3 separate regions of the Homo sapiens genome follow, and regions 1 and 2 are each reported to be linked to region 3. Evidence: microRNA targets listed by miRTarBase, many of them from high-throughput screens and not tested one by one. Region 3 holds a microRNA gene; each other region holds the end of a gene's coding sequence.

What was found. Region 3 holds the annotated microRNA hsa-miR-6838-5p (AAGCAGCAGUGGCAAGACUCCU, at 2,249-2,270, opposite strand). A microRNA usually pairs through its seed, bases 2 to 8, with sites in the 3' UTR of a target mRNA and lowers its output. Matches are read on the target gene's strand: a 7mer-m8 pairs with bases 2 to 8, a 7mer-A1 pairs with bases 2 to 7 and ends in A, and an 8mer does both.
Region 1: the mRNA of IPPK is a reported target of hsa-miR-6838-5p. Seed matches in the 3' UTR shown: 7mer-m8 at 1,753-1,759, 7mer-A1 at 1,457-1,463, 7mer-m8 at 608-614 and 7mer-m8 at 605-611.
Region 2: miRTarBase lists SETD1B as a target of hsa-miR-6838-5p. Seed matches in the 3' UTR shown: 8mer at 2,360-2,367.

Annotation. Positions count from the first base shown.
Region 1 is chr9:92,613,336-92,616,335 of GRCh38, forward strand. IPPK (inositol-pentakisphosphate 2-kinase) reads right to left here. Exons shown (of 13, transcript NM_022755.6): 13 at 1-2,722. The coding sequence ends at 2,497. CENPP (centromere protein P) reads left to right here. Exons shown (of 8, transcript NM_001012267.3): 8 at 1-3,000. Among named protein-coding and RNA genes, the nearest start is that of IPPK, 55 kb to the right of the region's middle.
Region 2 is chr12:121,829,961-121,832,960 of GRCh38, reverse strand. SETD1B (SET domain containing 1B, histone lysine methyltransferase) reads right to left here. Exons shown (of 17, transcript NM_001353345.2): 17 at 305-2,895. The coding sequence ends at 2,722. Among named protein-coding and RNA genes, the nearest start is that of TIALD, 25 kb to the left of the region's middle.
Region 3 is chr7:44,071,159-44,074,300 of GRCh38, forward strand. MIR6838 (microRNA 6838) reads right to left here and starts at 2,275; the gene lies at 2,220-2,275. It overlaps POLM (DNA polymerase mu), which reads right to left. Exons shown (of 11, transcript NM_013284.4): 8 at 2,973-3,075; 9 at 2,625-2,867; 10 at 2,467-2,550; 11 at 904-2,219. The coding sequence ends at 2,133. RefSeq lists an enhancer at 2,941-3,140.

The sequences.
Region 1 (3,000 bases), not on the chromosome of region 3:
TGCCAAATAAAAGTGACACGTACAATGTGGTTTATAAAAATAAGCTTAACATCTGAGAAAATGTACCAAGTGGTTGTGTGTCCTCAGATGTGTGGGGAGGATCCATCCCCCACCCACTGCAGCCTCACACCGAGTCCACCTTGGACATGGTGGCCACATTACTCAGCTGGGAGAAGCCACCCTTATCCTGGTTCCTGCCTCCTGGGGGCTCTGGAGACGGATGCCTATGGCGCCTCATCTTTAAACTGTCCTTAGTAGCCCAGGGGAGCCACACCCTCACTCCCTGCCTCCCCCCGGTCCGCATGGTGGCACCGTGAGGCAGTCTCAGCAAGTCCTCATGCTGTTCTTGGTCTTCCACAAGAAAGTGAAGCTGTCAGCTTAATAACAAGAATGGCCTAAGACAGCAAAGACAGCACTGTTCCTGGGCTGGGACGCAAGGAATGAGGTCCTTTATGAAAGAAAGACCCCCCTGCATAGCCTAAGTGCTATATCGATCGTCCCGGATGTGCCTTAAGAACCGTGACCTCATCAGTCGCCCATTTAGCATTGTTAAGATCTGTGAACGCGTGTTGTCTCAAACCAGTCAGGGCCGTCATGACTACGCAGCAGCAGCAGTTTCCAAGACGGGCCAGAAACGCATCCACAGCAGTGGCACCCGCGGCTCAGGGGCTCCTCACAGCCCGGGCTGGTGGGAGCCAAGACCAGACAGAGTGGGGGTCTCCATCTGTTTTCTCTTCTCCCTCAAATACAGGCTGTTTTCATCGTGTCTAGTCCAGCCCTGTCTGGGCCCTGTGCTAGGCAATAACTCTTGCAGCCCTGAAGGACCTAGGGAGCCCAGCCCACCTTCCCACGGACTGGGGTTCCCTCACATGTGCACTTGAACCCAGGACCCAGCATCCTCCACACACCGTGACAATGGGCAAAATCATCCCAAACCAGGCTGCCCCAGCCCCAGCCCAGCAACAGTGAACTCCCTTGGGTCAAGACAGTACTCAACGGCCACTACCTCCACGCTTCCCAGAGCCTGCGGCTTGTCCGTGAGCTCCGTGCACTTCACCAAAGCCCCCATCCCAGCACACAGGACCCGTGTGTATGAGACGGTGTCATTGGAAGTGAGAAGAAAACAGTAAAAGTGTCCAGTTAGATAAGTATCTTTTTGCACCTCTGAGAGTAGAATTAGAAGTAAATATGACAGAATTGAACAATAAATTCTAGAAGAGTTGCCTTGATTCAAACAAGTATAATTCTCAAGTTATCACAAAATTTCCCACAAAAATTTACAATCAGCAAAATAGTTTCCTTATTTCTCATGTATCATTTTCATATAATTCCATGGTTTCACTAATATTATATGTTACAATAAGCCTCCATTAGTCCCTCAAAACGATGATATAAATAAGTCTGTACAACCTAGCATAGAATAAAAAACTGAAACCAAGATTCCCAACGTTTTTCATAGCAGCCGGGCACACTTTGGTGACCCCAACGAGAACCCTCTCGGCAGCAGCCAGGAGCTGTTCACCTTCCAGAAGCAGGGCCTGTGGCAGCCTAACAGGGAGAGGCCACGGGGCCCAAAAACGCAACACGTCTCAAGGCAAACCCGAGGGAGGAACTTGGTCTGGGAGGAAGAGAGAACTCGCTCCTCAACCACCCCAGACACTGGAGTGTCAGGAAAGCACTGAGCTGTTGGGGCACACTGCCCAGCCCGGCCACAGCAGCTCAGCCAGTCACAGCTCCACCTCCAACTTCTACAGCAGCAATTTTTAGTGGGAAAGAACAGCTCATCTCCCCCTCATGTGAAAGATTAAATTGTAAAGCAAAAAAAAAAAGGTCAATGCTCGCATGAGTGGTGTCCATCCTGACCTGAGCCTTGCGCTCCCTGCTGCCCTGTGTGGAACTGTGGGCTTCAGCACCTCCACAGGGACCCTGAGTCTACACTGCTCAGAATCGGCATCTGCGCGACCACGAGGTCACGCTGTGCAGCAGGGAACCACCTAAAAACCTGTGTTGATATGTGGCTTGCACTGAAAAAGTGACCATGTAACTCAGCTGGGGGAAGTTCCAGTAGTATCCATGTTTTCTTAAAAGTCCAAACTGTAAAATGTATGTGACAATTCAAGTTTTCTATGTTAGGAGTCTGGTGGTAGCAGATCCAAACCTTGGGTCTTAGAATAAGGCTTTTCGCATTAGAGAATCAGACATGAGCCCTGGTTGGGAAAGAAGAACTATCCAGAACGTCTTCCCAGGGCTTAACGGACACTTCCATTTTAAGAGTGTGAGCAGCTTCCTGGGACACAGCACTCACTTCCTACATTCCTTGTCCAGGAAGTTGTTTCTAGTGCTCTTCAATTCCATGTCTCCAAGAGGCAATCCCACCTCAAAAGGGGTTAAAAGCAAAAACATTCACAACCAAAGGTCACCCAACACAACAGAAAATATCTCTATCATTCAGCCTTCACATTATGTTCAAGTTTCAAAGACACTGCAGGGAAAGAGTTAGACCTTGTGGAGAACTAATGTGCAATCTTCGCTTTCCTTGAACCGAGTCGACATCACGGCGTTGTCTTTGGCACGTACAGTCTTTGAATAATAGTTGACGATCTTGCCGTCCAGTTTATACTGATGGGGAATGCTCTCGTAGGGCTTGAGGTCAAGGTCCAGCACAGACACGGAAAAGGCAAACCTGGACCTCGATGAAGGGACGACAGGCCTTTGATCAGAGCTGCAAGTAAAAAGTACCATTTCAGGATACACAAGCCCCCCATTCATTTCCCTCCCTCCCGTTCTCTCTCCCTTTCTTCTTTCAACTAGTATGTTTTTATGTTTTTTCTTTGACTTCTGCAAAGTTAGATAAATCAATCTCTTTTAAAAGAGAAGTGAATGGCCTCACACCCCAGCTCACAAAGAGCACTCGTTCTGTGCACCTGTGATCTGTGCGTGTGACAGCTGTCTGTGCCGGCTGTGTGCACCAGCGTGCAAAGCTTCCTCAGGCCAGTGCAC
Region 2 (3,000 bases), not on the chromosome of region 3:
AGAAAAATTTCTTAAAAATTAGCTGGGCATGGTGGTGTGCTCCTGTAGTCCCAGCTACTCAGGAGGCTGAGGTGGGAGGATCACTTGAGCCCAGGAAGTCAAGGCTGCAGTGAGCCATGATTGCACCACTGCACTCCAGCCTGAGGTGACAGAGTGAGACCCTGTCTCAAAAACAAACAAAAAAACCCCTGCTGATCTGAGTGTCTGAGTGGACCACTCCACCCTCCACAGAAGCAGGATGTGCTCCCAACAGAAAGAAAGAATAAAGAGGAGAGGGAGAGAGGAGAGCAAGAGAGACGGCGTATCTGTAAGAAAAGTCAGTATATTTATGGTTTGCTTTATAAAAGTTACTATAATACAATGGTACATAGTATTGAATTCACAAAAATATGAACAAATATTTACATCAAGACACACAACGGAAACACTTCTCTTCAAAACAAGTTACATATGGATGATGGAGTCTACCCGCACAAACATCCCTAAAACTCATTGGTTCTCATCTTTGCAGGGGGAGGGAGAGAAAGCAAAAAATAGCAGAAACCCCCAACTCTTGAAAAGCAGAGATTTGTTCAATGAAAAATGAGGGAGTTGAAAGAAAAATGACTCGACACATATCTTGATTATTGCAAACCACTCTGGGGCTGGGGCTCCTGGGGAGAGGGAGGTCTAGTCCCCTTAGTGAAGGCCAGCCGAGGTTAACACTGGGCACGATGGCTGGGAGCAAGGTGAGGCCAGGGGGAGGGGTGAGGCAAGGGTCCCTTCCCTGGTCTTCTCGAACACCCCCACTTCTTTTATGGGAAGGGGACAGAATGGAGACAGCCCTTTGGAGGCTGTACATGTAACTTGAATCAGCCGTCTCTACAAGCTACGCATTTCCTCATGTGAAAAATAAATTATTTCCTCAGTTGCACAATTAGGCAGAAAACCGCAAACGGAAGAGAAGTTCGCCGCTGTGCCCAGGTACCCCATCTGTGTCTTGTTGCCACCAATTTCCTTGATCTTGAAACCGGCGGGCACAGTCTCAAATAGAGAGGGCCTGGGGGAAAGGAATAAAAAAAAAACAACAAAAAACACACAACAAAACCACCAACAACAAAAAAGAGAAAAATAACAATTCTTTGTACAGAATTTACATGATAACAAGCTTGACACAAGCTGAGATACCAGAGGCTCCGGCCGCCTGCGTCCGCAGGGTGGGAGCAGCTCCCTCATGGAGCGCGCTCATCTTGATGAGGACTCCGGGTCACAACAGTCACTTTCCAGAAATTATTTACACGCCTCCTCTGCTTTCTGGGGTACGGGGGGACTTGCTTTTGTCTTTTTTTTCCTTTTTTTTTGGAAGTACAAAGAAATGAGCAAAAAATGTCTTCCCGCATGTTTCTACAAGAAACAATGTTCCCAAGAGAAAGTCCTTTGCGGCAGCCTCTATATACAGAAGTTGGTTCTGAACTTCAAAAACCTTTTTCCCCTTCCTTTTGATTTTATACACGCACAAGAAAAAAAAAAGCCATGGGAATAAATTCTGAAGAGATGGGAAGGGGGTCAAAAGGGAAAAAAAAACCGTCAAGGCTTAGATTTGTGTTTTTAAATCTTTTCCAAGATTTTCCTTTCTCTGGGAGAAGTAATCTGCTCCCTCCGAAAATAAATATGCTCTGGCCTTCTTAGGTTGAGGGGCTGCCGGCAGGGGGATGTGGGGTGTGGGTTGGGGGTGAGTGGGTGAAGCTTATAAGCCAAAAAATGCCACACGCAGACGGTCTGACAACCCGTAATGGCGGGACTGGGGGACCCGCCTGCCCTTGGGAGCCCTGTCCCACCCAGGGCGAAGGCAAGGGCAGAAGAGAGTGGCTGCCCGCGTTCTCAGCGCCCCTCACCTGCACTGGGGCCTCCGAGAGGCTCCCGCGTTGCTGGCATCCGAATGAGAAAGTAAACATTGAACCCAAGGTTTAGGGGGTGCTGGGGTGTGAGGTGGCAGGGAAAGCCCAGAGCGGAGACCCCTGCCTGGGACAGCTTAGCTCCATCAGGGTCCACCGGGTCAGTGGTGCCCCAGGCCTCTGGGGAAGGAACAGGCTGCAGCTCGGGTGGGGAAAGGTGTGGGGTCTCCTCACTGTGCCCACGGGCAGTGAGGGGCGCTTTCAGGGCGTAGTGTTCTGAGGTCAAGGCCGTGGGGGCCTCCATCCTTCCCACAGCACCTGGCCCTGCGTCCAGGTCCGGGTGGCTTCCAGGACACGGGCCACGCACAGCCACACTGAGGCCTCTGCAGACCCCCGCGGGGCCCCTCTCTGATTCCACCTTCACATTTCAACGGTTAAATGTCTTTTCTCACAACGAGGAAAAAAATAGAGAAGACAAAACAACGTAGCAGCATTCACAGGAAGAGGCCGAGGGTGATGGTGGGAGAGAGAAGAGACAGAGAAGAGAGAGAGGGGAGGAGAGACGGAGAGAGAGAAGCTGATGCTGGAGTTAAACAGAAATCCTGAAAGGGGCGTTTGTTAAAATGAGAGAGACGTGGGCTGAACGACAGAGAAGCCCTTTCCCGCGGAGGGGCCGGAGCCAGGGGCTCCAGGGGGTAGTGTGGGGCGCCAGGCCCTGAATGGCCGCTGGGTAGAGGACAGCACCTGAAATGGGGGCGGGCGCGGGGGGCCGGGCCCCGGGGCCAGGGGCTCCACGCTCGGGAGTCCCAGGGCTACGGCTGACATCCTTTGAGTCTGGTGCCGGGGCCTAGTTGAGGGTCCCCCGGCAGTTCTCGGAGCCACAGAGGCAGGGGATCTTGACGTCCTCGATGGGGAACTTATAGTCATAGGTAATCTCCTCATTGACGTTAATGTGCTGCTTCGAGTAGATGACTATCTTCTTCTGTGACTCCACCGTGATCACCTTGGCATAGCAGTTGGGCTGCAGGCAAGGTGGGGGGGAGAATGAGCCCCTGGTCCCCCAGGGTCCCCCACCACTGCAGACCCCCCAAACCCAACCAGGCCTGTGCTTAAGGCCTGACATGCC
Region 3 (3,142 bases):
GCTGGGATTACAGGTGTGAGTCACCATGCCTGGCCAACAATTCCATTTTTAAAAATGAGACTTGAACAGCCACTTCACCAGTGAGGACATAGAAGCCAGTGAACAGATGTTCAACGTTATCAGGCATTAGGGAAATGAAAATAAAACCACAGTGAGCTACTGTTATGTACCTACTACTAGAAAAGCTAAAGTTAACAAATACTGCAACTATCAAGTGCTGACAGGGATACAGAGCAACTGCCTACTGTGGTGTTTAACTTACAGGGGTGCTCACAACGCTGGTGGACTGCAAAATGACAGACGCACTCGGGACAACAACTTGGCTCTTATGAAATAAACATATACTTACCAAATGACCCAGTAATCCTGTGCCTATTTACCCAAGAGAAATGAAGACCCATGTGTTACACGAAAACCTGTACATGCATGTCTGTAGCAGTACGATTCATCATCTCCAAACCCTGGAAACAACCCAGACTTTTTTTCTTTTTAGGCAGACTCTTGCTCTGTCGCCCAGGCTGGAGTGCAGTGGCACAATCTCAGCTCACTGCAACCTTGGCATCCCAGGTTCAAGCAATTCTTATGCCTCAGCCTCCCGTGTAGCTGGGAATACAGGTATGAGCCAACATGCCCAGCAAATTTTTGTATTTTTTGTAGAGATGGGGTTTCGCCATGGTGGCCAGGCTGGTCTCAAACTCCTGGCCTCAAGTGATCCACCCGTCTCAGCCTCCCAAAGTGCTAGGATTACAGGCATGAGCCACGGCATCCGGCCACAACCCAGACATTCAACACCTGAATGGATAAACTGTAGAACACCCATGGCATGGAACAAATTACAAACTCAACATACCCAGCAACCTGCAGGAACGTCAAAGGCATTAGGCTGTGGGGAGAGGCCAGTCCAAAGGTTAAATATAGTTTGGTTCTATTTACATGACATTCTAGAGAAAGCAAAACTATAGGGATGTAGCACCGCTAAGTGGGTGGGGGTGGAGAAGCACATGACCACAATAGGACAGCATGGGAAGTGTTCTGGGGATGGACCTGGTGTGCCCTACGTGTGCAAAAACTGCACCCCAAGAGTCAACTTTACTGCATGTTTTCAAAATATTTTTTAATGTGATGAGTGGTCTGGGAAATCCTCGCCTAACAAAGTGGCTTTTGATTCAAGGCCTGAAGAAGGGGAGGGCCCACTCCAGGTAGATGACATGGCCAGGGCAAAACCTGAGGCCAGAGTGTGCCTGGGGATATGAGGGACGTGGAGGGCACCCATGTCCAGCCCACCTCAGTGCTTCTGCCTCAGTGAGAAGGGGAGGGAGTTGGCCACAAGGGGGCCTGGGTGCATCAAATAGGAAGCCGGTGAGTCAAGCAGCTCGGGGCCAGTGGGGCTGGAGAGATGCCAGAGCCAGGGGCTATGTGTGGACTTAGGGTTTGGAACCATTAAAGGGCTCTGCGACGGGAGTGGCAGGATATGACCTATTTTTGAGACATTGTGCTGAGAACAGGCCTTAAAGGCAGAAGCACAGAGCCTGGCTCGGGGCGCTGCAGTACTGAAGCCCCATAGTTGAAAATTATCTTCCTCCCAGCTCCTACCCAGGCCCTCTCCCTCTCCAGATGCCTACAGCACACCAGACAGTAGGCTCCTTGCTGGCACGAACCACAGCCTCCAGCTCATGGCTCTCAAATGCAGTGCAGGTATGCATGGTTCTCTTCTGGGCATTCTGGGCAGGGTGCCCTGCAGGAGCCACAGTTAACTGCAGTGCAACTAATGAGACACTGCACATCAGGGACCACTTGCCATTCATGACTGCAGGCCCCACCACAGCTCCACGATGTGGGCCCCACTCACATCCCATCCAGGGCAGGAACGTGAGCCATGGGGAGGCTAAGAGCAGACCCAGGGTCACACAGTGATGAGGCTGGCACTGAGGGCTCCCACCTCATCACACCCTGCAGCACACCAGCAGGGGCTCAACTGATCCTGCAGGCACAATTGACCTCCGGAAGAGCCAGGCCTTGGCGGGGAGGGGTGAAGGTGGGGGTCAGGGGGCAGCATATCTGCCTGGAGACATTCAGTGGCCAGGTTGGGGGCAGCCCAATTTCCTGAGTGGAAGTGGGGGACACAGGCAGGCTCAGGCGTTTCTCTGCTCTGGAGGAAGGTACTCAAGGCCCAGGTGTCTGAAGATGTCTTCCTCTGAAGCCGCTTGGAAAAATGTCTTCTGCAACAGAAGCAGGACTTCCGTGACCTAGGAGTCTTGCCACTGCTGCTTCCCTGCAGGAAGACTGAGGGTGGGGAAGAGCCCAGCGCCGAGGTGGGGTGTGCTCTTGAGGGCCAGGAACTGTGTGTGGAGACCCAGATTCGGGTCCTATGGGTTTCAGGCTGGAGGGGTCTGGGGCCATTTCAGATTGTGGGTCAGGGAGCGGACTATGGGTGCTGTTTGCTGTCCCCAGTCCCCAACAATGTACCTGCTCCGGGTCAAACAGCCCATGGCTGTTCAGCCACAGGCCCTTCTCCTTCCGGCTGAAGCGGCGCAGCTCCCGCTGGAAAAGCTGTAGGGAAGGGATTGTCCTCAGCAGGGCTGGCCCAGCCCCACCCCCAGGCGGCCCAGCGGCACACTGCCTACCTTGGAGCCAGTCCAACCGAGCAGGGCGAAAGGGAACTGGCTGACGGGTGCAACTACCAAGTCCACTCTCACGGCCTTCCAGGATGGGCAGGGCCTCGTGGATCCCCCCACAGCAGCCCCTGGAGGTTGTGGTAGGCGGAAAATGCAGAAACTTCTCTCAAAAGCGTCCATGTGGCTCTGTTGGGCCAGGCGGGTAGGGGACTCACAGCAGCTGTGCTGGTGCTGGTGGTACAGGATGAGGCCCTGTGGGGAGAGGCGGGCGTGGCTGAGACCATCCGGTGGTGTGGAGAGAGCAGGAGGCAGTGGCATTGGCCAGCGGTGGCTCTTGGGGAGCAGGGAGGCCCTCACCTGGTCCTGCAGGCGGCACATCACTCTAGGCAGCAGCCCCGCCTCCTGACCCTCCTTGGGGTGGGTGATGAGGAAGTCCACGTCATGGCCCTGCAACTTCCCCCTGAGGGCGTCAGTCTGACTCTGACTCAGGGACACGGCCTGCTCACTCCAGCCCCAGGCCACATCCC